2 separate regions of the Homo sapiens genome follow, and region 2 is linked to region 1. Evidence: fine-mapped expression QTL. Tissue or cell type: whole blood. Region 1 holds a variant in brackets; the other region holds the start of a gene. All regions are shown on one strand. Distances are from middle to middle.

What was found. PIP is the estimated chance that this variant, and not a neighbour inherited with it, causes the effect.
Region 2: it holds the start of CD300E, and the variant in region 1 is fine-mapped to the expression of CD300E in whole blood (TOPMed, PIP above 0.99).

What each region holds. Positions count from the first base shown.
Region 1 is chr17:74,645,714-74,648,398 of GRCh38, reverse strand. No RefSeq gene overlaps it. Among named protein-coding and RNA genes, the nearest start is that of CD300E, 23 kb to the right of the region's middle. The variant T/C (reference allele first, on the strand shown) is at 1,022.
Region 2 is chr17:74,622,165-74,624,849 of GRCh38, reverse strand. CD300E (CD300e molecule) reads left to right here and starts at 1,112. Exons shown (of 4, transcript NM_181449.3): 1 at 1,112-1,268. The coding sequence starts at 1,229. The region is part of intron 3 of LOC101928343 (a long non-coding RNA gene); the gene reads right to left.

The sequences.
Region 1 (2,685 bases):
GTACATTTTTCCATCCCTGGGAAATGCAACGTGCCAGGCACTATCACCCACTGGATGCTAGGTTTCAGCTTCAGGCGAGGCAGTGAGAACCCTCCTCAGCTGCTACCCTCCCCTGCCCTCCCCTCTCCCTCCTTCCCCATGGGATCTGTAGGGCCCGCAGCTCTGCATTGGCTTTGCTCAGACACACCAGCCTCAGGGTGCAGCTGCTATGCACTGGGGGACTGCACTGCCTCTCCTGTCACTGTGAGTCCTGGCATCTTAGTTCTCAAACATGCAGTTGAGTCAAGAAGAATGATGGCCATTCCTTCATCTCCTGACTTTTAGGATCTGGGCTAAGCTAGGACACAAACCAGGCTCAGAAATGAGGCTTTGGCTCCTGGCACCCACAGCTCTGGATTTGCAGGACAGATAAGACACGGAGCCTGCCCCGGAGCTCTTTCAGCCAGCTTCCCCACAGACAGCAGTTGGAGCTGCTGGGCCAGGCTTTGCTGGGTCCATTTAGCTTGGGGCATCTGAGAGGGGACGGTGGTGTCCTTTATCTCCAGGACTCCCACAGAGCCAGTGGACTCTGCAGCTGGGCTCTGGGTGCCTTGTGGCCGTCCTTGGGAGGTTGCCACTTGACCAAGGGAAGGAGATGGAGAGACAGCCTGAGATTTGGGGTGTGTAGAAGCTTCTCCCTCTGATTGCCCTGAATTTAGGTGAGATTTCAGTGGCATTGGAAATCTAAACTTAGGTTTGGAAAGGAGTTTCAGGCCAGGTGCGGTGGCTCATGCCTGTAACCCCAGCACTTTGGGAGGCCAAGGCAGGCTGATCACCTGAGGTCAGGAATTCGAGATCAGCTTGGCCAACATGGCAAAACTCCATCTCTACTAAACACACACACACACACACACACACACACACACACACATCAACTGGGCATGGTTGTGGGCACCTGTAATCCCAGCTACTTGGGAGGCTGAGGCAGGAGAATCGCTTGAACCTGGGAGGTGAAGATCGCAGTGAGCTGAGATTGCACCAC[T/C]GCACTCCAGCCTGGGCGACAGAGTGAGACTCCGTCTCTGAAAAATAGAAAAGACTGGAGTTTCAGAGTGTGGTGGCCCTCCTGGGAGGACCCAGGGATGTGTGATTGTGCCATACAGTTTATGCATCTGGATAATAATAATAATACCTACTTTGTTTGACTTGCACGGGATTTAAGCAAAGTAATAACAGAAAGCATCTAAAGTGGTCTCTGAAACAAAGTAAACTCAGTAATTCTTAGCAATTATTATGTCTCTGGCCATGGCTGGCAGACCCTGGACCTGAACCTGGGTAGCAAATGTCACACTGCCCTGCTCTTGTTCTTTTTCTTTTTCTTTTGTGACAGAGTCTCTCTCTGTTGCTCAGGCTGGAGTGCAGTGGTGTGATCTTGGCTCACTGCAACTGCCACCTCACAGGTTCACGCGATTCTCCTGCCTCAGTCTCCTGAGTAGCTGGGACTACAGGTGCCTGCCACCATGCCCAGCTAATTTTTGTATTTTTAGTAGAGACAGGGTTTCACATATTGGCCAGGCTGGTCTCAAACTCCCGACCTTGTGATCCACCCACCTCGGCCTCCCAAAGTGCTGGGATTACAGGGGTGAGCCACTGCACCTGGCCCCTGCACTTCTTTAATATTGTGCCTGGAAGGTGCTGGGCATGGAGTGGATGTTGCATGACTGCTTCTTGCAGAGCCTCAAGAGAGCAGGGAAGGCTGGGCTTCCCAAGTAGACTTAAAGGATTGTGTGTTTGTGCTTTTGTTTTTGGGGTATTTGTTCATTCATTCATTCATTCATTCAAGAAAACTATATAGAGCATATATTGTGGGCACTGGATGTTGGAAATGCAATGGTGAGCAAAGAAGACCCATTTCTTGCCTTCTTGAGGCTTATAGCCCAGTAGGGGGAGACAGACATTAATCAAATGTGCACCAATAAATGTCCCATTACAACCACCATAGAAGAAGGAGGTGCTCTGGGAACTTCCATTAGGGGCATTGATTCAACTGGGCTCCAGCGATGTCTCACCCCATCCACTTCCCCCACATGGCCTAGCCCACCGTTGTCTCACACCTGGAAGGCTACAATTGCTTATTCATGTCTCCCAGTTTCCTGCCTTACCTCTGTCAATTGTTTTTTCCTCGCAGCAGCCCGTGTGATCCTTTTAAAGTAAGCCAGGTCACGTAATTCTCCAATGGCTCCCTGCATCATTCAGAGTCAAATCCAACTCCCTATTAAGGCCTATGGGCCCTTAAATGATGACTCTGTTTCCTTTCTGATCTCGTCTCATTCCACTCTTGCCCTCATTCCCTCTTCCTGAGCCATGGTGGCCTCTGCTCCCACCCCAGGACTTTTGCACAGCAGCCCCCTCTACCTTGCACTCTTTTTTTTTTTTGAGATGGTGTCTCCTGTCACCCAGGCTGGAGTGCAGTGGCGCGATCTCGGCTCACTGCAGGCTCCGCCCCCTGGGGTTCACACCATTCTCTTGCCTCAGCCTCCCGAGTAGGTGGGACTACAGACGCCTGCCACCTTGCCCAGCTAATTTTTTGTATTTTTAGTAGAGACGGGGTTTCACCGTGTTAGCCAGGATGGTCTCGATCTCCTGACCTCGTGATCCGCCCACCTTGGCCTCCCAAAATGCTGGGATTACAGGCGTGAGCCACCGCAC
Region 2 (2,685 bases), 24 kb after region 1:
TGGCCTCCCAAGTAGCTGGGATTACAGGCACGTGCCACCATGCCTGGCTATATAATACTTCATCAGATATGGTGGTACAGAAAAGATAAGAAGTTGTGCTCTTACAACAAAAGTTTGAAATATCAGATGATCCAGTAGAGTTCTAAAAGATAGTAAAGATTAGAGGCTGTGGGTATCAAAGATGGGTATCTCTGGGGAAAGAGAAGGAAAGAAATTATATTTTCAGATAGCTATGTCTTAGAGAAGAGTATCTTCTGATGTGCAAGTTGGATTAGAGAGAATGTATAGCTAGTGGAGGGACCAGATGAGAAGCTATTTCAATGGTCCAGGACTATTCTAAAGGTATTTAATATTAACTGGGCAGTTACTATGTTCCAGGCACTGTATCAAGCACTTTACTTACATTAACTCATTTATTTCCTGTGGCAACCCTTTGAGAAAGAATTGTCATGAGTACTCTATTTTACAGATGAGGAGACTGAGGAGGAGAGTGATTTGGCAACATGCCCAAGGTCAGATGATTAATAAATGATGGAGATGAGATTTGAGTTTGTGTGACTTCAGAATCTATGCTGTTGACCATGACCCATATACTGAACTAGGTTAACAGTGTATAACCAGGTGGAGCTTCCCTATAGGAAGTTAGAAAGTAGGATCTGGAGCCCAGGAGAGATATTGGGATATTGGGTTAGAGGAAGAGGTGTGAAGTCATCCGCATGGAGATAACGGTTGAGAAAGACATGGGGAGTGATCACCACAGCTCCTTAAGTAGAGGGTGTTTTATGATTCAAAAGTAGGCAGCCATAGAGAAGGGAAGCTCCTTAGATCGATGAAGTAATCCCAGATAGGAAGAAGAGTGAAAGAGGCAGGGAACAGAGTTTTCTCTGTTGGAGAGGTTTCGTAAACTGGGACTGACTTTCATGAAATTCCGAGTCATGAAATCTCAGGGGGTGACTCAAACATTACGTTCACATTAAATGAAGGCCAACAGATTTTCCTGTTTGTGCTTGGTCCATTCTCAGAAACGTCTCTTGCCACCCTTTCTCTTCTGCTAAGTAAGGCTTAAAATTAGGAAGCATTCTTTAAAAGGCAAAAGAGGAAATAGATGAGTGAGAACACAAAGGAAACTTGGACAAGTAGAAAGTGGATGACCCAGGCTCCGTTACATATACTTGGATTCCAGCTGGGACCTAGATTTGCTGAGGACGGAAGCCAAGGAGACAGGAACATGTGGCTGCTCCCAGCTCTACTCCTTCTCTGCCTCTCAGGTGAGTGGGGCTGTGGCTTTGGGGACTTGGTTTTGCAGGGGGCAGGACAGTAGGTAGAAGAGCTGTCCTGGGTTCAAACCAGAGGTGAAGTGTCCACAGAAAAGGGAAAGATACATCCGTTCATTCACCTGTGCATCCTTCTATACATTCAATCATTCATCCACGGATCCTACAAACACTTACTGAGCACCAGATATGTGCCAGGACTGTTCTGGGTGCTGTAATTAAGAGTAACTTCTGAACTGAGGGAGTCAACTAACTACAATACAATGTGGAAATTACTGTTGTAGAGACTCATTCATGTGGTGATGAGAGTATGCAACAGGAACCCCTCACTTTGCTCTTGGAAGGGTGGGAGATGTCACTGAGGCTTCATTGGAAGTCCATCCTGCAGGATGAATGAGTTGGCTGAGTGGGAAAGGAATAGCTTATGTGCAAGTGTGAGGACATTAAAGACCATGGAGAGTTCAAGAATTAACAATAGTTCTGTTTTGACGAAGCTTAGTGTAAAGGGGTTGGAATGGTTTGTGAGAAATAATTAATGGGCTGGGCGTGGTGGCTCACGCCTGTAATCCCATCACTTTGGGAGGCCAAGGTGGGTGGATCACCTGAGGTCAGGAGTTTGAGACCAGCCTGGCCAACATGGTGAAACCCTGTCTCTACTAAAAATACAAAAATTAGCTGGGCGTGGTGATGCATGCCTGTAGTCCCAGCTACTAGGGAGGCTGAGGCAGGAGGATCGCTTGAACTTGGGAGGCGGAGGTTGCAGTGAGCCGAGATTGCACCACTGCAGCAGTCTGGCCTGGGTGATAGAGTTGAGATCCTGTCTGAAAAAAAAAAATGCCATCCTCAACATCTACCTTAAATCCTTCCCGGAACAAGGTGTGGTGTAAACAAGTAAATGAAACTGTCCTGCAAAGGTTGGACTTCAGAAGAGAAACTCTTATTAATAGACATTCAAAATACAAAACTGCAGGAAAACACATTTGTCTCTGGGGAAATAAATTTAGGCTAAAAATTAGAGGACATTCTTCATGTTTGCAGAATGAATTTTATGGTTGAGTTCCCTCACAAAACATAGAAATTGCCCAATGTAATGACAAGATTCTTTCTAGAAGGGTGAGTGAAAATGACAGCGATTTAAAGGAAGAAGACCAGGTAGGTGACATGGACCCAAACTCGTGGGCTCAAGCAATCCTCCTCTCTTGACCTCCCAAAGCACTGGGATTACAGGCATGAGCCACTGCACTCAACCAATGTTTGCTCATTTTGTATTTGAATTTGCTTCCTTTTTCTTTGCCCTTTCCATCTCTCTTTCCACCCCTATCTCATTCCCCATCCTCAGACTCGCAATGTGACCTGCGCAGGTCCCTCTGAAAATCTTAACTGGGAAAGAGAGATGGAAAGGGCAATTCTA